Linked DNA regions of Homo sapiens. The main gene of each other region encodes a partner of the protein of the gene in region 2 in a complex. Each region holds a gene or a part of one and is shown on either strand. Other genes may lie near its edges.

Region 1 (7,033 bases), on a different chromosome or scaffold from region 2:
CATTACTTCAAAAGTGAGCTTGAAATTGTTTTAAGTGAACTATGGCTGCGGATTTTTTACTGTTTTATCTCAGGGAGCATACAGTGGAGTGATTAAAGTTTGGACTCCTTCTCCTTGTGATGAAGAGAAACAGTGAGTCCAGCTCTTAGGAATGGCATCAGTTCTCCTGCAAACAAAATGCTGGGATGCAGACTTTTGGCACATTGTGGAAGTAGGAGAACTATTAATCCTGTAATGGTTTTCATGCCACTGGGTCAGGAAGGCTGTCCTACACTAAACCTTACTGCATCTGAAAACATGTTTACATCCCAACAAGCCACCTTAGCTTTTTTTTTTTTTTTTGAAAGGAAAATGAGATTACAAGTCAATACCTCCACAGAGAGGTAACTCCTAATATTCCTATGATCTCTGAACCCTATTTAAACCCTCCTAAAATAAAAATATCATTTTGGTTTTTCTATTATATTTAACTCTAAAGGCGGGCTCTGACTAATTTGCTTGGGCTTGATGCTACAGTATTAGCACAAGCTATAAGCTCCCTACCACCATATAAGCCTTGCTCTTCGGCCTTCCATCATTTTGAACCCTAAACCTCATAGATTTAGAACGAAACACTGTATAAAAACAAACAGATAAAGGGTTAAAATATTACAAATAAATAGCTAAAATAATCTTCCCTCCCCCAGTCACTCCTAAGAAACAGACACCAAACATTACTTAAGTGTCCAAAATGACCAAAGTCCTTCATTTGCCCATGACTCAAACGGACAACTACCTCAAACAAAGTTGAACAACCTTCATGCAAATGCATCAAGGAATGTATTGCTTTTTCATTTTCTGCCCAGCCCTTCATATACATGCACTAAAATGAGTTTAAAACATGGCCTAAAAATGGAAAAAGGGAGAAGAAAATATATATGAATATTTCCCACAAAACTGTTTCCCTCCCTTCCCTCTCCCTACACCCCTCCCACCCCCCTCCCTTTCTTAAGCAAGTATTTTAACTTTCTTTCTGGCACAGGAACAAAGAAGACTTCCTGGTAACCAGAATCAAACCCTGTGGTTTCTTTAATAGGGTCTGGATATGCCTTTCTAATTCACCCAGCTTGATGTCAAAGCCATGCCATTTAGGATTCTTAACCAAATCAGACCTGTCTGACTCACCCCTTATGGTGGTTTGCCTATAAACTTATCAATAGTTTTTTTTCCTCTGGCCCTGTTTCTTTTAGGAAATAAGGTTCCTAATTCCCAATCAGGGCCACATCCATAAGATCATCATCTTCCTCCCCAATCATAAAGTCTGGGCTGAGCCTTGAGGGTCTGTCTGCAGATAAGATTGTGTTACTTGTCATAGACAAGGACTGGTCTGAAGAGATGGGTGATTTGGACCAACTCTCTGGCTTGATGCTATGAGATTTTTTCTTGTCTCGGTCTTTGTCCCGGTCTCGGTCCCTATCTTTGTCTTTTACTTTCTTCTTTTCCTTTTTGTGCTTCTTATGTTTCTCTGTGCTGTATTCTGGAAGTGGTCGGATACCATCGTCTGAGCTGGGACTATTCTGATAAGATTTCTCTGCTATGGAGGAGCCTGACTCACTTTCACTGTCCAGATTCTGGGGGGTATATGCTGGTGACTTACTATGGCTGGGAGAGCCACGCTCATGCTTTGGAGTGGAACCACTGATGAGTGGAGAGCCATAGTTTTTAGAAGAAGCCATTTGAGGCCTAAGCCCTTCTCCACTACTTTCCCCAGGTTTCTGCAAAGTCACTTTGGCTTTAATGCTAGGGGAGCCTCCATCATGCTTACTGATGATAATTTTTGCCACACCTGTGCTCCCCACATTTTTTGACTCTGAGGTCTTCTTAGAAGAATCCACTGAACTCCCGGAGGTGGAAACCTTTGATTTGTCTTTATCACTTTTCTCACGCTTGCCCTGAAACTCTCCTCCTGACATGTTATGTTTGGAGGACATAGGATGGCTGGAAGAATTTGTGCTCACCCCCATCTGGCCGTCCAGTGGGTCTTCACCCCCAGGGCCACTGGTGACAACCCCATGCTTCAGTTTATCTATGACAGCTGTCAAGGACGGCTTCTTGTTTCTGCTGGGAGATTTTCCTTTAGAACTCCCATGCTGGTTCTGAGAGGATGACATGGAAGAGCCACTTGAGGAAAAGGAGGAGGAAGATGCCGTACAGGAATTAGATGATGGGGGAGTTTTCTGGGACAACGAGCCTGAGGATCCTAACCCTGAAGATGACTTCATGCCAGAGCTTGAACTAGTTCCAGACATATGAGAACCACCAGAACCTGAACTGATAGGGGACTTGGCTTTAGAGGATGGAGGAGTTCCAGGAACAGGCTTCATTGGAGAGGCAAGCTTGTCAGAGCCTCCAGGTGGCCTTGAATGAGAAGGGGATATGTTTGGTTTACTTAAAGAAGGATTCATAAGTGATGATGGCTTTCCTTGAGGTTTCATCTTGGTGCTGCTAGAGCCACTGCTCAGTCCATGCTTGGTTATGGGAGAGGAGCCTGGCTTCCCCCCAGACTGGGATGAATTTTTGGACTGGCTAGATCCAGAAGACCCCTGGCTAGAATACATACTGCTACTTAACTTGGAACTTGATGAACCTTCTGATTTACTGCTTTTCATCTTCCCTGAGGTGGAAGCAGATGAGGAAGAGGAGGAAGAATGGCTATGGTGGCTTTTGCTGCCTGAGGAAGACACAGAACCACTGCTGGTATACTGACTGTGAGAGGAAGGCTTGCCCACCATCACTGTTCCCTTAGGAATCTGAATAGTGATTTTGGGAATGGGTGGTGTGGCAACACCTGGGGGAGTCTGAGATCTTCCTGCACTGCCTGGCGATTTAGATCCACCTGTACTGGTAGGTGGGGTAAAAGGTCTGTTAGAAGAACTATGAGATGGAGACTTTCCCTCAGTGTCTGCCTTCTTCCGCTTTGGAGGCTTATCTTTGCTTTTCCCATCATTAGAAGGGGTCCGACTGCGCTTCCCTGGTTTGCTGTCTAATCCGGGCCCCGAGAGAGTACTATTACTGGTGCCATTGCCTTCCTTTACCCTCTTTTGAGTCTTTTCTTTCCCTAAGTCCCCAGTGGTCAGTAAAGGACCCTGACTACCACTGTGATGCTCCATAAGATCTGCAGGAGCTAAAGCTTTGCCGGCTACTGAAATAATACTGAAATCAACTGTGTCGGCTTGGTTATTGCCCTTAAACTTGGTCTCCCCATTATCACCTCCAAGCATTGGCACCCCCAAAGTATTTAGTGCCTGAGATGCAAATCCTTTGAAATCATCATTATCCCCACTTTGGCTGCTTTCATCAAAATATTCTTCTCCAAAACCACTTTGGCTCTGGCTGTTCAATAAATCAGGATTGAAATCTACTCCATCATGAAAAAAATGATTGGTAGGAGAGTCACTACTGGGGCTTCCAGCAGCATCTGCAATAAGATCAGCTGGATCAGTGTATGGATTTTCATTATTGTTAGTTTGAAAGACATCAGAGTCAAACAGGGTACTCTGAGAATGCCCAGAGCTTGAAGAATCTCGAAGAGGGGTGCCAATGGCTGGGCAATCATCACTAGTGCTGGGAAGTTTAGAAGCTTCTTCTGCAATGTCTGAAAGGATGTCAGTTACATCTGGGCCAATGCTGTCTGAACTGGATAGTCGGACCATCCTTTGAATACTGGGTTGGGGGTGAGGTACTGGTTGTGGGTAAGTTGTTGGGGGAGTGCTACACTGGCTTGGAGCTGGAGTGATGTGTGGCGTATCCAGCGTGTCAGCTGTCATGTTGACATCAAAGATAGGGTTCTGTGAGTCAACATCCATTGAAAATAGCTCCCTCTGAAAGTCATCTTCAGTCTGGTGCTTTGGTTTCTCAGGTGGTAATCTTGATGACTTCTTTTTCTTGGTCTTGTTGCTCCCCGAGCATATTTCCATGCGGGGTGAGCCGGAAGAGGAGTTCTGCCTTTCTAAAGGGCTGCTTCCATAAAGGGTTGAGAAATCCTGGGCAGGATTATCTTTAAGAAGGTTCATGAGCATCGGGTGGTTCTTGGTGTTGCCGGCCATCGAAGAGACAGGTGGCGGCGTGTGATGAGGAGGGGTCGGACTCGAGCCAATGGTAGACCCCCCGTTCCCTGTGATTTGCAACAAACTGGTAAGAATTGGGTTCTGAGACACCTTGCTGAAGTCCTCCCCATGGCCCACCGACTCATGCCGATCTTTGATGCTCATGCTCATATTAAACAAGGTGGTAATGGGACCCCCCGGAAAGGTGTTGGTTGGTGTAGTGGTACCACTCATTGGGTTGTTGCCTGTGGTCATGCCATACCCTGGGCTGCTAGCCGGGGGCAGGTTCTTTTTCACCATGTCTTCAACTGTCTCTGCAATGAGGGACAGTGCTGGGGTGTCGGCTTGAATGGTTTCAGCTTTCCTCCGAATAGCCCTCATCGTCACAGGGATGGACATACATCTGCAAAATAAAGAAGAAAACAAAGTTAACATTGCAATAGCTGCTGAATGAGACCTGAGATTTAGATATAACATCAGAGTTTTGCAGTAAGCAGTTTTCAGGTAGGGCAAATAATCTGTAAGACAAAAATAGTTCTATCAAATACCAGAGCTTTGGGTAAATACATTCTAAAAATCTAACCCAACATAAAATTGTCAACCTCTTATGAATCACACAACAAAAGCAAACTATAAACAAGAGTCCAAATAATTGAATTTCAAACTTAACTAAAAGAAAATTGGTAATAATGGAACTCAGTAAGAAAATGCCTCCTTAGGGGCCGGGCACAGTGGCTCACGCCTGTAATCCCAGCACTTTGGGAGGCCAAGGCGGCTGGAACATGAGGTCAGGAGATCGACACCATCCTGGCCAACATGGTGAAACCCCGTCTCTACTAAAAATACAAAAATTAGCTGGGCGTGGTGGCGCGTGCCTGTAATCCCAGCTACTCGGGAGGTTGAGGCAGGAGAATTGCTTGAACAAGGGAGGCGGAGGTTGCATTGCACTGAGATCACACCACTGCACTCCAGCTTGGCAACAGAGTGAGACTCCGTCTCAAAAAAAAAAATGCCTCCTTAGGTCGGGCGCGGTGGCTCACTCCTGCAATCCCAGCACTTTGGAAGGCCGAGGAGGGTGGATCACTTCGGGTCAGGAGTTTGAGACCAGCCTGGCCAGCGGGGTGAAACCCTGTCTCTACTAAAAATACAAAAAATTAGCCAGCCGTGGCGGTGCACAGCTGTAATCCCAGCTACTCAGGAAGGGTAGACAGGAGAATCACTTGAACCCAGGAGGCAGAGATCGCAGCGAGCCAAGATCGTCCCATTGCACGCCAGCCTTGGTGACAGTGCAAGACTTCATTTCAAAGGAAAAAAGAAAATGTCGTCCTCTGGGGGGCTTCATATGGTAATTACAGGGATACATAATTTATTTTAATTAAGGAACCATTAGAAAAATCTCCGCCGGTCAGAGTGGCTCACGCCTGTAATCCCAGCACTTTGGGAGGCCGAGGCGGGTGGATCACAGGGTCAGGAGTTTTGAGACCAGCCTGGCCAACATAGTGAAACCCCATCTCTACTAAAAAAAAGAAAAAATACAAAAAATTAGCTGGGCATGGTGGCAGGTGCCTGTAATCCCAACTACTTGGGAGGCTGAGGCAGAATTGCTTGAACCCGGGAAGCAGAGGTTGCAGTGAGCTGAGATTGTGCCATGGCACTCCAGCCCAGGTGACAGTACAAGACTCCATCTCAAAAAAAAAAAAAAGAAAAGAAAAATCTCTTGACCCATTAAGTACTAAACCTTAATGACTTAGATCATCCCAAACCTACACTATTATAAAAAGTGCTATTTCTGTTATAAATCTTGTTTATTTTAAAGCAAAGCACTTTTTATTTTCCAGATAAATTTATATTCATAAACCTCAGTTTGCAAACGTTTTGCTCTAGAACATATGTCAGCAAATTTTTTTTTCTTTTTTTTTTTTTTTTTGAGACGGAGTTTTGCTCTTGTTGCCCAGGCTGGAGTGCAATGGCGCGATCTTGGCTCACTGCAACCTCCACCTCCCAGGTTCAAGTGATTCTCCTGCCTCAGCCTCTCGAGTAGCTGGGATTACAGCCATGCGCCATCACGCCCAGCTAATTCTGTATTTTTAGTAGAGACAGGGTTTCTCCATGTCAGTCAGGCTGGTCTCGAACTCCTGACCTCAGGCGATCCACCCACCTCCCAAAGTGCTGGGATTATAGGCGTGAGCCACCACACCCAGCCAGCAAATTTTTCTTTTTTTTTTTTTTTTTTTCTTTGAGACAGAGTCTCGCTCTGTTATCCAGGCTGGAGTGCAGTGGCATGATCTTGGCTTACCGCAACTTCCGCCTCCCAGGTTCAAGCAATTCTCTGCCTCAGCCTCCCAAGTAGCTGGGATTACAGAAGCCCGCCACCACGCCCAGCTAATTTTTGTATTTTTAGTAGAGATGGGGTTTCACCATCTTGGCCAGGCTGGTCTTGAACTCCTGACCTCGTGATTTACCCGCCTCAGCCTCCCAAAGTGCTAGGATTACAGGGGTGACCCCCGCACCCGGCCGCAAATTTTTCTTATAAGGCCATATAGTAATCCGTTAGGCTTTGTAGGTCTTGTTTCCTGTTCACCTACTCTGCAATATTAACTAGAAATCTGCCACAGACATGTAAATGAACAGCAGTGTTCCAATAAAATTTATTTACAAAAATAGGCTGCCAGACCCAGCTGTAGAAAAATCTCAAAAAATTACATATTAATGGTTCTGGGATGCATACTGGCTTAACTATCACGTAACAATTAAGTTGGCTTTTTGTTTGTTTTGAGATGGCATCTTGCTCTGTCTACCAGGCTGGAGTGGAGTGGCACAATCTCGGCTCACTGCAGCCTCCGCCTCCCAGGTTCAAGCAATTCTCCCGCCTCAGCCTCCTGAGTAGCTGGGATTATAGGCACCTGCCACCACACCTGGCTAATTTTTATATTTTTATTTATTTAGTT
Region 2 (4,459 bases):
ATCACTTGGACCTGGGAGGTGGAGGTTGCAGTGAGCTGAGATCATCGCAGTACTGCACTCCAGCCTGGGCAACAAGAGCGAAACTCTGTCTCAAAAAAAAAAAAAAATTTTTTTTAACAAAAGGGGAGTGTAGACAAATGTCCTGGAAAGATGTTAATGATAGATGAATGGGAAAAAAGGGTTATAAACCAGTATATATGGAATCTTTTTATAAAATAAACACATTTCATATACATAAATTTATAAAAAAATAAAGACTAGATGGATATATACCAAAATAGAACTAGTACTTCTCTTTGGATAATAGGTGTTATTTTCTATCTGTACTATATTTTAAAAGTTTTCAACAATAAATATGCTACTTTTATGAAAGGTGAAAACTCTCATCCTCATCTCTGCCACAATTAAAACTAGGAACTGTCATTTTTTTTGCTTCAACTGGTAATGAATCTACCCCAAATTTACAGGGTAAGGGAATAAAGAATCAGAATTACACAGACATGTCTCTTCATTGGCTTTATTACCATGTAACACAAGCTCACAGCCTCTAATGTTACCAACCTTATACACAAATGGCCAAACAAGAAATTGTCCTTTCCAAAAGATAATTTATTCTGGTTTCCCCTCTTCATTTTTATTTTTTTTTGAGACGGAGTTTCGCTCTTCTCACCCAGGCTGGAGTGCAATGGCGTCATCTCTGGTCACTGCAACCTTCACCTCCTGGGTTCAAGCGATTCTCCAGCCTCAGCCTCCCAAGTAGCTGGGATTACAAGCGCCTGCTACCATGCCCGGCTAAATTTTGTATTTTTCGTAGAGATGGGGTTTCACCATTTGGCCAGGCTGGTCTCAAACTCCTGACCTTGGGTGATCCACCTACCTCAGCCTCCCAAAGTGCTGGGATTAGAGGTGTGAGCCACTGCGCTTGGCCCGGTTTCCCCTCTTAATACAGTGGGATTAGATAGATTCTCCGTGACATCCTGAGCCTTTAATATAGAAAGGCTGTCATGAAAGTGAAATCGCCACATGAGGAGAACAGTGCAAAGAACCAATTAATTCTCACCATCCTCTCCCTGAAGGAAGAATGCCTGCCTGGCAATGGTGAAATGGGACATTTAAAACATATTTTTTTGGCCAGGCGTGGTGGCTCATGCCTGTAATCCCAGCACTTTGGGAGGCCAAGGTGGGTGGATCACGAGGTCAGGAGTTCGAGAATAGCCTGACCAACATGGTGAATCCCCATTTCTACTAAAAATACAAAAATTAGCTGAGCATGGTGGCATGTGCCTGTAATCCCAGCTACTCAGGAGGCTGAGGTGGGAGAATTGCTTGAACCCAGGAGGCAGAGGTTGCAGTGAGCCGAGATCGTGCCACTGCACTCCAGCCTGGGAAACAAAGCGAGACTCTGTCTCAAAAACAAAACAAAACAAAAACCAAAAAAAGCAAACATATTTTTTCAAACAAGTAAGGATAGGCCCCAAATGTGGACAGATCCTCTTAGTCACATGAGCCTCTTGGGGTCTATTTTCTCTAGGTGAACCAGAGGTTTTAGCTGTTCTGCGAAGTTCTTCATGTCATCAGAGACCATGTCCTGCCCAGCGGGTGCTACCACACTTAATTCCACGAGATAGGAGAGTGACAAGGCCTCAGTGCTGTCTGTGTTCCCTGGCACCAGGATGCGGAAAATCTTGTACACCATAATCTTCATGATGCCCTTACGGAACAAATGTCCCTTAGCAACAAACTCATGGTCCATGCGGAAGCCCATTTCCATCAAGAAGTCGGTGAGGTTCTCAGATGTGGCAATGTCCACGCAGTTTCGCACCAGGGCATGGCGGTTCTTGTCTCCCATTTCTGGCTGTCCCAGGTAGCGCAGATGCCAGGGTGCCCCTGCCCTGTCCATAGAGCGTCGGGCCCTGAGAACAAATGGGCTGGCTTGCTGGCCCTTAAGGAGGAATACCATCTCATGGTCAAGGAAAGTCTCAGGTTCCATGTTGTCACACAAACCACGAAGGCGGTGGATGAGGCTTTCCAAACTGTGATCTAAAACACTTCCTGAAAACGGAAAAAGCACCACTGAGTCCTGTCTTTCATTTTAGGTCATGGAGTTAGTATACAATTGAAAAAACTTAAATGAAAAACCAAAACAGTTTAGTGAAGCATTTCATAAAACATACAGCCAAACATGAGATTTTACAGAAATTACACTACCAAGGTATTGTATAACGTTGTGAGAAAGTTATTTTCCTTTTCAATTTTTTTGGAATTTTCTTATTTAGCACTACAAAGTCTTTAGGCCTCTTCTAATGCTCATCTCCAGCAGGCCTGGGGCTTAGAGCCTTTAATCAGCGACAGTGTCTATCTAGAATGTAATAATACTGTTTTAGTTATGTATTTATTTATTTTTGTAGAGTTGGGGTCTTACTATGTTGCCCAGGGTGGTCTTGAACTCCTGGCCTTGGTCTCCCAAAGTGTTGGGATTACAGGCACAAGCCACCATGCCCAGCCAATAACACTATTTTGTTGTTATATATTTTAACAATTGCCTTCTATTTCCAACAAATCAAAGTCTTCCATTTATAGAAGAAATATAAAGTCTCCCCCGCTTTTTTTGAGACGGAGTCTAGCTCTGTCTTCAGGCTGGAGTGCAGTGGTGCGATCTCAGCTCACTGCAACCTCCACCTCCTGGGTTCAAGCGATTCTCCTGCCTCAGCCTCCTGAGTAACTGGGACTACAGGCGTGTGCCACCACGCCCAGCTAATTGTTGTATTTTTAGTAGAGACAGGGTTTCACCATGTTGGCCAGGATGGTCTCGATCTCTTGACCTCGTGATCCGCCTGCCTCAGCCTCCCAAAGTGCTGAGATTACAGGCATGGAGCCACTGCACCTGGCTAAAGTTTCCTTTTTATCAGGAAAAGTTTTCCTCTTCTGTATGTAAGTAGAAGAGAGTGAATTGCTTCATAGAATCTTCATCCTCTTGGCAACATCTGACATAATTGTTACAGTAGATTATACCCACTATGAAATCTATTCTTCCCTTGGCCTCTGAGACACAACTTTCTTGTCTTCACTTAACTTGCTGACCATTCCGTTTAAGTCTTCTTTGCTTGGTCTCTCTCATCTTCCCCAAACACTGGAGGACTAGGACTCAATCCTGGTCCTCTTCTGTATCAATACTCTTTTCCTGCCTAGGTGACTTTATTTGGTCCCATGGCTTTAAATATCATTTAGGCCCTGAGGACTCCCACGTTTTTATCTCTGAACTACAGATGAAAACATCCAACTTCCTACTCAGTTTCCTCACTTGGATGCCTAACAGACATCTTTATCTTAACATGTTCAATATCAAACTGTTGATTTTTTCCTCCAAAATCTTATTCACCCTACAGTCTTCAACATCACAGTAAATGGCAACTCTCTGTTTTTAGTTGGTTACCCAGGCCAAAAACCAGAAAATCATCTTTGACTCACACCCTCTTTCTTTCTCTCATACCCTCCATTGAATCCGTATTTTTGAAATAAATGCAGAATGCAATCACTTCTCACTCATCTGGTCACTTCAACCTAGTCCCTTCAAATGAAGTCACCCTCATTTCTTGCCTGGTCTTTGCAATCGCCTCTTTCTACCTTTGCCTTCTTCCTCTCTTCTCCATATGAAAGCCAAATGGTCTATTAAATTATTGGGCAGATAATAACACTCCTCTACTCAGGACACTACAGTGGCTTCCTGTGTCATTCAGAATAAAAGCCAACATCTTTACCGTTGTCAACAAGGCCCTACATATTATGGTCTCTGCTACCTGCCAAACATCATCTCCTTCTATTCCTCCCCTTGATCATTCTCTCCAGGAGTGACCTTCCTGCCACACCCCTTCTCCTATTCTCTGTGCTTAGGATGTTCTTCCCATCTGCATGTCTACTCTATCACTTTTGTCAGGTCTCTGCTCAAGTGACTTTATCATCAAGGCCTTTTCTGATCACCCTAATAAAATAGTATGTGTCCTACCAATCTCTAGCCACTTTCCTGCTTTATTTTTATGGCATAGTTTTGTTTTTTTTTTTTAGGTAGGGTCTCACTCTGTCTCCAGGCTATAGAGCAGTGGCGTGATTATAACTCTTTGCAGCCTCCATCCCCTGGGCTCAAGTGATCCTCCCGCCTCAGCCTCCCAAGTGGTTCAGACTACAGGTGCGCACCACCATGCCCAGCTAATTTTTTTTTTTAGTAGAGATGAGTTCTTGCTATGTTGTCCAGACTAATCCTGAATTCCCGAACTCAAGCAGTACTGCAGCCTTAGCCTCCCAAACAACTGGAATTACAGGCATAAGCCTGTAACAGCTGGCTTGACATACATTTTTTTAGTCATCTTTCTGCCTCCATGGCTATGGCTCAAATGTTAGGAACATATTCAGATACTTGTTTACAAAATCTGGCTGGGCGCGGTGGCTCACGCCTGTAATCCCA
Region 3 (7,847 bases), on a different chromosome or scaffold from region 2:
AATTAATTAGTTAACATATTAACGGTCAATAGAAAACTCTTAACACAGATTGTTGTAAGGCATTGTAAACAGTGCCCTTTATGGCATATATAAATATTACTGTCACTGGGGGTAAAATTCATTATGGATCAGTATGTATCAGGCTTAGGAGAATTAGGTGTGAATCCAATCCCTAAGATCCCAAACAAGAGCCCATTATGAATCCAATGACATGTCACATTTCTAGACTGGCAAAACTTTAAATACGATGTCAAAATGTTGTGCCCGTATCAAAGTTTGTCTTCTAGGATTATCTCCAAAAAGAGCCTATAATGTTCTGCTTCTCTCCACAACCACTGTTCTCATACATACTTCTATTGTGGCACATATAACAATGATTTGGAAATACCTATTTTCTTCCTGGTCTCTCCATTAGAGGGCCACATCATAATTCATAAAGTGTTTAATGAATTTTTTTTTAAATTTTGGAAAGATATTCAACATCACTGAGAGAAATGCAAAATAAAATTATACTGAGATAAAATTTCTCATGTTTTTGATTGGCAAAGATCAAAAAGCTTAACACTCTATTGTGAGGTTATAAGAAAAAGATACTCTCAGCCGGGCGCGGTGGCTCATGCCTGTAATCCCAGCACTTTGGGAGGCCGAGGTGGGCAGATCATGAGGTCGGGAGATCGAGACCAACCTGGCTAACACGATGAAACCCCGTCTCTACTAAAAATACAAAAAATGAGCCGGGCGTGATAGCAGGTGCCTGTAGTCCCAGCTACTCGGGAGGCTGAGGCAGGAGAACGGCGTGAACCCGAGAGGCAGAGGTTGCAGTGAGCCAAGATCACGCCACTGCACTCTAGCCTGGGCGACAGAGTGAGACTCTGTCTCCAAAAAAAAAAAAAAAAAAGAAAAGAAAAAGATAATCTCAAACACTGCTGGTGGAAGCATAAACTAGTATAACCCTTATGGAAAATTTAATAATTTCTATAAAAATTACAAACTGATAAGGCTTTTGACTCAGCAATACTATTTCTAGGAATTTATCCTATTTTTCATGCATAATATTATTCATCACAGCATTGGTTAAATTAGAAAAAGTAAGAAGAAACTTAGAAGACAGTAGAAGATTGGTTAAAAGGAGGAAGGTACAGCCATACAATGGAATATTATGCTGCTATTTAAAAAAAAAAGTAAGAAAGGAAGGAACAAGTAACGCTTGGACTGATAGGGAATTACCTGTAGATTATTATTAGGAGAAAAAAAGTGCTAATTAATGAACAGTGTACATGGTATATGATCATGCTATAAAAGTGTTTCTATATGCATAAAATACTTCTAGAAGAAAACATAACCTGAGGATATTGGCTACAGACAGAAAAAATAACAGGTAAGAGAAGAGAAAGAGACTAGTTATTGGATCCACCCTTTTATACCTGTGCATTTTGAACCATATAAATGTATTACCTATTAGAAAACAACTAAACAAAAAGGTTAAAACATGACTGTATTGGCATTATATGATCCATGTCTGAGTGGCAAATCTTATCACCAGTGGCTGACACGCAAACAGTTCTCATTTCCCTACCTATAGTGTACCATGAGAAGGTAAGGCACTACTGCAATGTGAGCTCTTCGAGGATGACACATTTTTGTCTTTTTCACGGATACATTTTCTGGTAGCTGTTCTTTGTTACTTTTACAGTTTGTCTCCTCATTTTTACTATAATATTTTCCTATCCTTATTATAGAATCTTGGTATTCCTATTGTAGCATCTTTGTATCAATGCTGTGCCAATTCCTTTATTTAGCAGAAAAATGGAATTTGTATCCTTGACAAGTAAAGCTTAACATATCTGTTTTCAAGTGTACCAAATAAATCCGAATAGGATGAAAATGATCTCAATTAATCTAACATAGGGGAGGTTTTTTTTTTTAAACATCTCACACTGTGCAGTATCAACTTGACTTCTCAACACAGGTTTTCCACTGAAATATACAAATTAAAACAAATGGAAGCCAGAATAAAAAATGATAACAATTTTATTTCTCCCTTCTCAGGAAGATCTTAAGAGCAGCATGAAAGTAAATGTTAAAAGAAAAAAAAAAAAAAAAAGAAGAGGCCAAAAATCATCAGCTGAATGTATTAAAAATGAAGCGCTCACCTGAGAAAGACCACCCCAAAACTGTCTGAAGGCCCCCAAACAGCTAATTAGTTTTGTTTTCTCATCTTCAGGAGTATCCATAAACATGCTAAAAAAATAAAAATTACATTATTTGTCATTCGTTTTAAAAAGGTAATTACACACAATCAGAATAGTGGATCTTATAACCTTCCAACACGAAACTAAGTAAAATCTGACAGACACAATCACATAAAAACACAAAACTCTGCCACGCATACACTCACCCAGGAAAAGCCTCTTCTATAACTTCCGTTTTCTGTAAAAAAAAAAAAAACAAAATGTAAACAATGTTAATTTTAAAAAGGCGCCTCCCTTAGCCAAGTATTACAATGTAACACAGGGCAAGTCACCTTAATCAGCTCTGAAACTATCAATACCTGTCTGGCCTGTCACTGTATCGATTTCAAAGGATACAATGAACTTGACAGCAGTTTGAGAATCACTAAACTTCCCCGCATACAACCTCGGTGTCAAAACAAGGGAATAAAAAGGGAGGCGTGAGAGGAGGTTGCCCAGGCCAGTTTCCTTGGTCGGCTGCCCCCGCGTCTCCCCGTCCCCAAGCCGTAGTCCTGGATGGCCGGCAGCTGCACTCACCACCACCTCTTCGAAAATGCTCTGCAGTTGCGTCTCCATCTGTACTATCACCCCCGCCTTTCCAGGGTGCCCGGCAAGGCCCGGATCAGACTCGAGCTCTGGGAATATAGGGGCAGAGGGGCGGAGACCTCTGGAGGAAACCGTAGCTCCTCGGCGTCGCTTCCTCCCCCAGCGCTTTACCTGGAGCGTTCCCTCCCGAGCCCAGCCAACAGCAGGAACCTGTACGGAAGACGGGAAGGGCCCGGTACGCGCCGTTTGCAAACCCCGCAGAAACCAGCGGCGCCACCAGAAGGTTCCGTCTGTGGAGAAGGGCGGCCCGCAAGCCGGACGAGAGCGCCCCCAAACGGAACCTTGAGCCCAAGGACCCCGGAGGCATCGTCGACCGCAGGCCGCCACCTCCCGGCTGGAGAAGGAGTTGCTTCCTGTTCGGGGCTAACCCGCTTGCAGACTGAGAAATGAAAAGTTTGGAACCCAGAAGCTGCAGCCTGCGGAAAATGCTGGAGCCGCAGCCGACACCAAGTTGATGTCTGTGAGCAGCTGACCTTCTGGACCTCCATCAGCGGCCTGCAGCCAGGAGCTGAAGCCACAGAGACGGTGTCTTCTCAGCTATGATAACCTCAGTGCAAATGTAATTGATTGACTTTTGAATGCCAAACCAATTTTGCTTCTATGGTATAAATGCTACTTGGTCATAATATATTATCCTTTTTAATATATTGCTAGATTCTATTTGCTATTATATTGTTGAGAGTATGTGTTTTTCTTCATATGCCACCATCATCACCAACCCCTAAAACATCTGTTATGTCTTGAATGATCAGCTTTCTTTGCCTCATAAAGAAAATTGTTGATGAGAGTCATAGACATCCAAAGGCCTTTCACTTCTTTGACGGTTGTGAAATGCCACAAACTGCTAAGCATGAACTACTCCTTTGTAGCTGCTAAGTGATGAGCTGATGACTCCCCATTCATGGTTTTGTTATACAAGTGTCTGACCTGGCATAAATTTAGTTTTCTAACAACTTTAATATGCACATGCAACCATGTTGTCCACACAATAGCTACTAAAAGCTGAAAAGAAATAATTCAGATTTCCTGCTGGAGAAAAACTTGAAAAGTTAGGCTTAGGGTATTGTTTGCTAGGGTTGCCATAACAAAATACCACAGACTGGGTGGCTTAAACAACAGAAATTTCTTTTCTTGTAATTCTGGAGGCTGGAAGTCTGAGGTTGAGGTTGATAGGGTTAGTTTCTATAGAGGCCTCTGTCCTTGGCTTGTAGATGACCTTCTTCTCCTTGTGTCTTCACATGGTCTTCCCTTTGTACATGTCTGTGTCGTAATTTTCTCTTCCTAGAAGGACATCAGTCAGGTTAGGGCCCATGTATCTACTCTAAAGAGCTTTAGCTTAGTTGAAGACATAGACATTTTAAACCATAATAGAGTGTGATATGTGCAATACTAGTGATGCTAATAAAGTGCCAGGGAGAAAAGGAGGAAATACAAATTTTTCTACAGAAAGGAATTTAGAAAGATACCTAGGGGAGTTTGCTTAGATTGCTGTGAACAGCATACTATAAACTGGGGGGTAATTTGAGTCTGAGCAAACTGAAAGCTGAGAATTCAGGCTTCTTGTTCCATCCTTGTCCTATCAGGATTTAGAGTGGGGGACTAAAGAGCCAACTGGAAACTCTGAGCAGCTGGGCAGGGCTTATCAACTTTGAGCATCTTTATAGTGTGTTCTGGGGACATTGTTTCTTGGAGAATCCCCAAAGTTGGTATCATCAGGTCTTTCCCCTTAGGCTGGTCTGAATCACCAAGGAAGATACATCTAATCTCTTACAAGTGGGTAAAGTTCTGACTGGCTGCCAACCTTCTTGCAGCCAAAAGGAACAAGAAGCCTGATCTCTTACAAGTGGGTAAAGTTCTGACTGGCTGCCAACCTTCTTGCAGCCAAAAGGAACAAGAAGCCTGAGTTCTCAGCGTTCAGTTTGCTGAGACTCGAATCACCCCAGTTTATAGTATGCTATTCACAGCAGTCTGAGCAAACTCACGTAGATATCTTTCTAAATCCCTTTCTGTAGAAAAATTTGTATTTCTTCCTCTTTCCTCCTGGCACTTTATTAGCACTACTAGTATTGCACAGATTACACTATATTATGGTTTAAAATGTCTACTTCTTCAACTAGACTAAAGCTCTTTAGAGTAGATACAGAAATTAAACATGCCTGCATTTCCTAACACCTGGCATAAAGTCTGGTACTTGGTGGTGCTCAGTCATTATTCATTACTTTGGGTAGAATAAAAACATCTGAAGTGCCTTTATTTTATGGACAAGACTTCCTCTGAGGTAATAGCTATTTCTGGAATGCTGGATGTAGAGAAAGATTTGGAACACCTACAAAGTTATACCTAGTAAAGTTATTATAATTTATAACAGTTGGGTTCACTGGACATTTATGTATGTGGTAGCTTATACTTCTAATGTTATTTCTGAAACCGTTACAAAATTTATTCAGCAAGTGTTCATTGAATGTCTTCTAGGTGTTGGCCACTGTGCTAGACACTAGAACAAGACTGTAAGCTCAAACTGACCTAGTTCCTGCCACCACGGAGTTGACACGGCAGAGAGGAGTTTAAAGGTTTGGGGAAATAACTTGGTTCATGCCAGGTTTCAGAGATGTAAACAGTACGTGGCCTGTACCTTCTGCTTCATGGATGGGCACCGTGGGAGCACTGTGACACTGAGCTCTACCTCGGAGAGCCCAGGCAGCATGGTTGTTTTATAATGTCTCTTCTGGAGACATCTCTAGAATTTGAGTCATAAATGAGGCCCTCATGAGTACACTAAAAATGAGAAGAGCCTATGAAAACCTGGAAAATGTTTGGAAATCCAAAGATTTCTGAGTTTCAAAATGAACAAGAAAGGGCTCCTAGAAATCTAACACTACTAGGGAATATTTCTGTACTTGAGACAAAGTAAGAGAAACAGTCTTCCATGAACCAGAGACAACCTTAGGAATGCTGATCGTTCAGTAGAAAACAATTGCTACACCACAGGAGTCATCACATCAGGTTTCTCATCTCCAAATTGATTATAGATGTTCATTGTGCTGATCAGTAATGAGATTTTTACTTATTTAGTCAGAAAATATCTTTTCACACACATAGGTACTGGCAAACAGCGGTATCAAACTGTGACCATTGATTCTACTTTGCCATAGTCATTGTTTGGAGGACTAGAGCTGGGCTCTCTATTCCATGCTGGGTGTCTGCTTTGTCTCCTGGTGTGTACCATTGCCTCTCAGACCTGGTTTGGCACTGCTGACATCAGTCTCACCAAGACAGCCAGTTCTCAATTCAGCTTCAGTGTTGGATCTCCACTTGCTGAGGATTAGCTTCTGTCCTTCCTATACCAACTGCCTACCTGGTTAGCTTTCTGATTGCTTTGTGTGCTTGTCAATCTCCTTGTAGGTTTTTCTGCTTTTTCCTCATGACTGGCCCTCCCTGAAGTTAGTCACCTGCCCATCTATCTCTGGCATTATGTTATTATGTGAGGTCTCCCTTCCTTTGTGGACTCCTTCTTCCTTTTGCTGTTGGACCTGAGCCTAGCATCCGCCTCACCTCTACCACCCTCCTCAGTGCGATTAGTTTCTCTGGGCTCTCCCAGTCTAGCTTGTCCACCTATCACCCAAGATCTAGCACTGGAACCAGGAAGGGCAGGTTCCTGAGACAAAGAAGTTGATGTTGGCAGGCCCCTAGGGCTTTTCTGAGACAACAACAACCCATTTGTTGCCAGAATTCTGTGGACACTGAGACCTTCTGTAACATGAGGAATGTTTACGGTTTACATTGATGGGTGATGTAATGGTAGCTGCCTCTCAGAATGCAAGCGTTCTAAGCCATTAACTTACTTACAAATTACTCTGAACATTTTAATGTTCAGAGTAAAGTTTCAGAACCAAGAAGGTACAGGTTGTTCTGAAGTTGAAGAAGAAAAGAAGAGAAGGTACAGATTGTTCTAAAGTTAAAGAAGAAAAGAATAGGCAAACTTTCAAGGTCCAGTTAACTTAGAAAGTGTAGGTTCAGATTTAAGTGACACAGGCAGTCTATTCCAAAGTCTAACTTGCATGGAAGGTGTGGTTTTGGCTTGTGTCTATTGATCAGGTGAACTGTTAAGTTTCTTTCTTTCTTTTTTTCTTTCTTTTTTGAGATGATGGTCTTACTCTGCTGCTCATGCTGGAATGCAGTGGTGCCATCATAGCTCACTACAGCCCCAAACTCCTGGGCTCAAGCAATCCTCCCCATATTCTCCCACCTCAGCCTCCCGAGTAGCTAGGACTACAGGCATGCACCATAACTCCTGGATAATTTTTTATTTTTCATTTTTTGTAGAGACAGGGTCTCACTATGTTGCCCTGGTGGGTCTTAAACTGACATAAGTGATCCTCCTGCCTCAGCCTCCCAAAGTGCTGGGATTACAGGTGTGAGCCACTGCATCCAGCCAGGAATAAGTTTCTAGAACTTGAAAGACTCAAAAGAGGTTGGGGTTTAGAGTTCAGTTAGAGAAATTGTTATAGCCAAAAATATGGCTAGCAACTTGGCAATGCCAACCATCTTCACTATACCTACTTGTATTATACATAGGTAGATTCCTTGAGGTTTATTCATCTTAGGACCTGAAGGACTAGGATGTGTCCCTATTATCATATCCAAAATTTAGTGACTTAGAGATAATCTAATAATCTCTGATAATTCTTAAAAATGAAGAATTCAATGTCCAGAATCACTTAATTTGTAACACAGACAGTCACTTACAAGCTAAGCCTTTATCAGAGGCCCCCTGACTTCCCCACCTAGGATTTTTTTGTGTGTTTTTCAGGGTTGAAAGGGGATAGGGATATACTCACTATGTACCCACAATTTTTTTAATTAAAAAAAGAGAAAAGGGATGAGGGATGAGGATGAAGGAAGAGAGAAGTGAAATTCTGGCAGTGTAGAACATAAGGAATCACTTAGTAAAGATACAGAGTAAGAGTCAGTAGTATGTTGGTGATATGGTTAGGCTTTGTGTCCCCACCC
Region 4 (7,033 bases), on a different chromosome or scaffold from region 2:
TTGACTAGGCTAGTCTTGTACTCCCGACCTCAGGTGATCTGCCCACTTTGGCTTCCCAAAGTGCTGGGATTACAAGTGTGAGCCACTGTGCCCAGCTAATTTTTTTTTTTTTTTTTTTTTTTGAGAGTCTTGCACTGTTGCCTGGGCTGGAATACAATAGCGCAATCTCAGCTCACTGCAACCTATGCCTCCCAGGTTCACGCGATTCTCCTGCCTCAGTCTCCTGAGTAGCTGGAATTACAGGCACACACCACCACACCTGGCTAATTTTTTGTATTTGTAATAGAGACAGGGTTTCACTATGTTGGCCAGACTGGTCTCGAACTGAGACTGGTCTCAATCACAGACTGACCTCGCGATCCACCTGCGTTGGCCTCCCAAAGCCCTGGGATTACAGGCATTAGCCACCATGCCCGGCCTGATTTTAATATATTTTTAAAAACTATTTACTAGTGAGTTGTTTCCTTAGTAGAGGTGATTAATTTACCCTGAACTGCCCAGGCTTCTAGTTACTGGAGCTCATTTTAATACATTTGTTAAGAGATTAATCAGTGGTAAGGATGCCAGCAATGTCTGGTCGACATGAGAATCAAGCTCAGCTATTTCTGCAATACTATCATGTTATATTAGTTAGTATTTAGTGAAGTAACTGGGCAAATAATAGCAAATAAGTTGCCTCTTTGAAATAGTAGCCAAGAACAGCAAAGGGAAAACTAGGATCCTTGATCTATGTCCAAATCCTACCTAGATGAGGATGAATGACTAAATTAATGTCAATTTTAATCAATTTATAAAATGTGTATATATTTTTATTGATTTCAAAATATATAAAAAATGAAAAATTTCCCTGATTTTTATGCTAAGGATCAGAGACCAAAAAAAAAAAAAGAGAGATTTAGACTACTGATAATTAAAATTTATATCAGACCAGGATAAAAGTAAAACTTTCCATTTCTATAATTCAATACTGTAAAATCTTTAAGCATCGAAAATGTGGCTCACAAGTAATGCAGACTATTTGAAAACAGTAAGTAAAAAAGAGAATGACAATAGCCTTTCATTTAACCACTGGCAATGGTGAGTGACAAGATATCACCTTTAGACTTGGAAAGTCTAGTTTTCTGCTCTTCAAAATATTGATAACAGATTTTTCAGAAACAGATTAAACAACATCCTTTTTAACCTTAAGAACCAACCTCTGTCAACTTACCAGTATTTGTTCTGCTTCCTTTAGCTGTTTTTGTAGCTGCTGAATATCACTGTCTCTCTTCTCTACTTCTTTTTCTAAAACTTGCATTTCATGATGAATTTTTCCCTGATTAAGTGCCAATTTCATTAGTTCTTGAAATTCCCCATCTCGGTGAATTAACAACTCCAGGACCTGTCAGATAACAGTCAATTAAATCAGACAATAGACTACTGAAAGGCTGCATTCCAATGAAACAAAGAATCCGTAACTGAATTGGCTAGGCTATAAATTTCAACACCTTCAAAATTTTATTCCTAATTCTTGTTAAGAATAAAAAGAGCCTACCTATGATTATTTTGGGAAACATTAATATCAAACTTTTCTACTTTTTCAGATATTCTTTCATACAAAACAAAATAAAACTAGCCTTTCAGAACTAGCAATATGGCAACATGAGCAAGTTTAGTGATTTCCTAGGGAAGACACGATTTTAAAGTTTATCCTTATGGCTGGGCACAGTGACTCATGCCTGTAATCCCAGAACTTTGGGAGGCTGATGCGGGCAGATCACTTGAGGTCACGAGTTCTAGACTGGCCTGGCCAACATGGTGAAACCCCATCTCTACTAAAAATACAAAAATTAGTTGGGTGTGGTGGCGCCTAAAATCCCAGTTACTCAGCAGGCTGAGGCAGGAGAATTGCATGAGCCTGGGAGGTGGAGGTTGCAGTGAGCCAAGATCACGCCACTGCACTCTAGCCTGGGTGACAGAGTAAGACACTGTCTCAAAAAAAAAAAAAAGTTTATCCTTAAAAATACAATATAGGCCAGGCGCGGTGGCTCACGCCTGTAATCCTAGCACTTTGGGAGGCCGAGGCAGGCGAATCACCAGAGGTCAAAAGTTCGAGACCAGCCTGACCAACATGGAGAAACCCCATCTCTACTGAAAATACAAAATTAGCTGGGCGTGGTGGTGCATGCCTATAATCCCAGGTACTCAGGAGGCTGAGGAAGGAGAATCGCTTGAACCCGGAGGCAGAGGCTGCGGTGAGCTGAGATCGCGCCATTGCACTCCAGCCGGGGCAACAAGAGCGAAACTCCATCGCAAATATATATATGTATATATAAATAATGAAAGTTCTCCCAAAATTTGGTATTTGAGATGATTTTAGGTGGCACCAAGAACTTAAGAAAACTTTTACACTTACACATTTGTGCTAATATATATTAGAAAAAACTGAGACACTGAAACTCTGAGTTTATGCACAGTATTGTTTACAATGAAGATGATCTTAAAAATACGGTGATTTCGGCCAGGCGCAGTGGCTCATGCCTGTAATCCCAGCACTTTGGGAGGCCGAGGTAGGCGGATCACAAGGTCAGGAGTTTGAGACCAGCCTAACCAACATGGTGAAACTTCGTCTCTACTAAAAATATAAAAATTAGCCGGGGGTGGTGGCACATGCCTGTAATCCCAGCTACTCAGGAGGCTGAGGCAGAAGAATTGCTTGAACCCAGGAGGCGGAGGTTGCTGTGAACCCAGATCACGCCACTGCACTCCAGCCTGGGTGACAGAGCAAGACTTCGTCTCAGGAAAAAAAAAAAAATACAGTGATTTCATAAAACAGTAAACAAACAAGTGGTATGCAGATACGGCAAAAACCATGAAGGCTAAAACACATAAAATAGAAAGTCTGGTGGTTCATATCTCTAGTCCTCCATCTGCTAGCTGTGTGACACAGGGAAAGTTACCAGCCTCTCTGAGCCTGTGTTCTTAATAGGAAAAGGAATATAATATTAATAGTAGCCATTACATGAAGCTATTGTGAGGATTCATGATATATTGCACTTTAAGTACATACAGGAAGAGTTCAGCAAAGGCTAGTTATTACGATCACTACCCCAGTACAGAATTAAGATGCAAGTCTAGTCTAAATATCCTTTACTGTGCTAAGTAGAGAATACTACTTCAGAAAGAAAATATCTATCAAAATTCAGAATCAATTTTAAAACTATTTAAAAAGATTTGTTGAAGACTAAAAAGTACAGGTATGCCTCTTCAAGATCCTTTTGACATGAAGTTCTTCTCATTTTATAGGAATTCTTCTAATACAATAGACAAAAGACTGAGCTACAAACTGCCAAATATTAAGAGTATTTTAAATAACAACAGAAAGCTTTTTCTGTAAAAAGTAAAGTATATTCTATTTATTTAACAGACTTCTAATCCTCATTCCTCCCACATCGTAGGAGAAAGCTAGGTTTCCATTTCTATAAAAGCTGTATTATTAAAGCAAGTAGTACACAGTAGTTCCCTGACAACTTTCAAGAAGTTTACACAGGTTGAATTAATTTGTATACTACCCATGAGTAAAAAATATTCTCTTTAGATCTTATTGTTCAGTAGAAAAAAATTATTCAACTAAAGTCAGAAGACCTAGGTTCTGGTTCCACTCACCATTAACCTCTACCTCATCCGTCCACCCTGGAGCTTATTCTCACAGGAGGTTGAACTGAACATCGTTAAGATCCTTTCTAATTCTAAAATTCTATATAAAATTATAAATATCCAAATAAAATGGTGGCTAGAAAATTTTCAAATGGGCACATCCCTCTCTAATAGTAACAGTTTCAATGAAAATTACATAGGAATCCACAGTACTAAGACACAATTCACAAATTGCTACTCTTTAAAAAGTGCAAGAAAGATCAGTGCTGATTATAGGTCTTAATTATCACCTTCTGAATAATCTGTGTGCCTGGCTCATAGCAAGCATTTAATAAGTGTCTATCAAATAAAGTCAAGCCTTGCATTTTACTTCTTGCATACTTTGTATAAATTCCTATTTAATCCCACGGGTATTAACAGAGTACCTGAGAGACTAGTAGTCTTCTATTAACATATTTATCTCTAGCCTCTTTCTTTTTTGAAAAAAAACAAAACAAAAACCTTACTACCCCTAAGGTTAGCTGTTTCTCCTAGCTTGTGGCCTCATCTGGATCCCCTCCTCCCCTTTTGAGGCTCACTGACACTTTTCTATTGAGTCCGTCAGATTTCCCTGCCCTCAAAACGTAAGACAGAACTAAGGTAATGATGCAGACAAAAGATTTATTACTGTCTCCTCTTCTCCTTTACATCATCTTTAGAAAGGTTAATCCTCTCCATTCATTTTCTCTTAAACATTTTTTTTGGCCAGCTATGGTGGCTCATGCCTATAGTCCCAGCACTTTGGTAGGCCAAGGTGGGGAGGATCCCTTGAGGACAGGAGTTCAAGACAGTTCAAGACTGACCTGGGCTACACAGTGAGACTATGTCTCTACCAAAAAAAAAAATTTCTTTTAAATTAGCAAGGCATTATAGCGCATGCCTATAGTCCCAGATACTGGTGAGGATAAGTGGGAGATCGCTTCAGTCCAGCAGGTTGAGGCTGCAGTGAGCAGTCATCATGCCACTGCACTCTAGCCTGGGCTACAGAGCGAGAACTTGTCTCAAAAAAGAAAAAACTGTGCCAAAAACATAATATAAAATTTATCCTCTTACCTCTAAAAAAATTCTGAATCAGGAAAAAAAGTCTGTTCACCCACCATGGAAAATTAGAAAGCACCGAAAAGTGAGCAAATAAAAACTGCCCGTACTTTCACCCCTATAAGGCAATGTCTAATAAGAGTTGTATGCTCTTTTATTTCCCTGCATGTTCAAGTTGCATTAGGGAACTATACTTACAATACACGGTAAGTTTTTGAGCATTAACTTTTGATTCTAAATATTGTTGTAATCTCCATACAACAAGCCTTTCTTGGTTAATTCAAAGGACAAAAATAAATAAACATGTAAGTGTGACTAGAATTGTAAGAGAAAATAACAAAATACTGCTAAACCCTCAGGCAACTATTCTTCTTAAGCGCACTGTTATCTTAAGTAAATGATACAAAGAAAATACCAATATTAAAGTTTTAATTAATAACTTAAAAGGATCCAACATTCCTGTTCCCACACAAAGTAAATATAAAGAGGAAACTTGCAGAAATCAAGTTTTTTTCTTTTAATTAAAAAACAAAGAGAAATTAACTAATTTAAAAAGAAGCCACTTACCTGGTTTTCCTCTCCAGCCTGTAACAACTTTTGGTTTCTTGAAATTGCCAGCATTTCTATAAGTTCCCTAAAAAAAAAAAACCAACAACAACAAAAACCCTTTCACAGCATACTGAACACTCAGGGCTACTCCCTACAGTCCGCTATTGACTGTGAACTACAGCTCACCAAGACTCGCTTGTGCCGGTTACCAAACTTATTTATAAAAGTTCTACTTAATACTATCATTATATAAATAGCTATCACCTAAATGCCAATGAAAGACTATTGTGAATAGAGAGAGTTCTTTCTATAAAAACCTAAGCCTAATGCTTGGAAAGACTCTACAGAGGCTTGCAAAGGACAGCTATAAAGAAAGGACCAGGGAAAAGTCATAAAAACTAAGGGTCTGCCCTAAGACTGCTTGATAAGAGGATAAGTTCTCATTTTGATTTGATCTAGAAATCAAACTACAAATTGCAGACAATGCATTATGAGCGATTTATGCAAGAAAAACTCATACATCAGGGGTCTACAGGCCAAATCCAGCACTTCTGCAGTTTTTGTAAATAACATTTTCCTAAGACAGTCTGCCCATTAATATACAAATTGTCTATGGCAGTTTTCCCTAAATACAGAGGCAGAGTTGAGTTGTTACAGCAGAGACTATATGGCCCATAAACCCAAAAGTATTTATTATCTGGCCTTTGCAGAAAAAGTTTTCTGACTCCTGTCTTACATAACATGATTAGTGAATGAACATATGTTTATATATTTTAAGGTAAAATAAAACAATTAAGGGATGCATGGACCATTTTTTAATGATTCTCCACTTTATTTGAATTTTTTAAATTAAACATCAACTAAGAGGGATCCTTACACATAATAAAATGATATCCTTTTAGAATGCTCATTTAATAAATATGACAATTTCCCTGTATGAAAATTAGTATCTGATGAGCAAAATAAGATTGGGAAAAATGTATAGCAGGTAATGTTTATATATTAGTTTCAAACTTGTTGATAGATGGGACTTTTGAGAAATTATGCAGAAGGGGCAGCTTCACAACTAGCTACCTGACACTGCTCTGATCAGCCTGAGCATTTGTACTTTCTCACTGGCTACCAGGCTATTTTTACCTTCAAATTTCCACCTTCCTTCCAGCTAGCATCATATCATTTTTCTGGATCATGTCAATTAGACCCAACCCTTCCCACTACTACTTCCCCATACCATTATTTATGAATTAATCAATGAATGAAAAAAGTAGATATAAGAATGCAAAGTCTTCATTTATTCACTAATTCATCAAATATTTATTGAGTGCCTATCATGTGCCAGGCACTTTCTAGATACTTGGGGTATCAAAGTGAACAATGGCACTTAAATTCTAATACAAGAGACAAGAAGAACTAAGAGAAGAAATAAACCTAGAGTGATAAGGGTTGGGAAGGAAATAAAGCAATGTTTTATTAGAGACTACTGGGGGAGTGGGTTGGCTACTTCAATAGGGTGGTCAGAGAAGGTCTTCCTAAGGGCACAGCTTTGACATAAGACACGGATTAAATGAGAGAAGTCAGCCAAGATGTCTGGAAGGAAAGAGCACAGTAGAAGACACAGACAGTTCAGTGCCCCAAAGATGGAGCTGAGGAGGTGTAGCCAGGGCCTGGCACAATGGGGAGAGGAAAGCAAAGTGAGGATGTAGCAGCCAGGTGGCTAGGGGTGAGATTACGTAGGGCCTTATAGTTATGGTAAAGATTAGTGTTTCATTCT

What was found.
Region 1: MED18 (region 2) and MED1 share a complex: the UniProt entries of both Homo sapiens proteins name them as parts of the mediator complex.
Region 3: MED18 (region 2) and MED23 share a complex: the UniProt entries of both Homo sapiens proteins name them as parts of the mediator complex.
Region 4: MED18 (region 2) and MED4 share a complex: the UniProt entries of both Homo sapiens proteins name them as parts of the mediator complex.

The regions. Positions count from the first base shown.
Region 1 is NC_000017.11:39,406,234-39,413,266, forward strand, and holds part of MED1 (mediator of RNA polymerase II transcription subunit 1), read right to left. Parts: intron 4,489-7,033; coding exon 1,242-4,488; 3' UTR 1-1,241. UniProt on the Homo sapiens protein: Component of the Mediator complex, a coactivator involved in the regulated transcription of nearly all RNA polymerase II-dependent genes.
Region 2 is NC_000001.11:28,332,010-28,336,468, reverse strand, and holds the end of MED18 (mediator of RNA polymerase II transcription subunit 18), read right to left. Parts: intron 2,053-4,459; coding exon 1,499-2,052; 3' UTR 504-1,498; downstream 1-503. UniProt on the Homo sapiens protein: Component of the Mediator complex, a coactivator involved in the regulated transcription of nearly all RNA polymerase II-dependent genes.
Region 3 is NC_000006.12:131,625,243-131,633,089, forward strand, and holds the start of MED23 (mediator of RNA polymerase II transcription subunit 23), read right to left. Parts: upstream 3,001-7,847; 5' UTR 2,808-3,000; coding exon 2,769-2,807; intron 2,431-2,768; coding exon 2,399-2,430; intron 2,242-2,398; coding exon 2,154-2,241; intron 1-2,153. UniProt on the Homo sapiens protein: Required for transcriptional activation subsequent to the assembly of the pre-initiation complex. Component of the Mediator complex, a coactivator involved in the regulated transcription of nearly all RNA polymerase II-dependent genes.
Region 4 is NC_000013.11:48,085,072-48,092,104, forward strand, and holds part of MED4 (mediator of RNA polymerase II transcription subunit 4), read right to left. Parts: intron 5,348-7,033; coding exon 5,281-5,347; intron 1,382-5,280; coding exon 1,211-1,381; intron 1-1,210. UniProt on the Homo sapiens protein: Component of the Mediator complex, a coactivator involved in the regulated transcription of nearly all RNA polymerase II-dependent genes.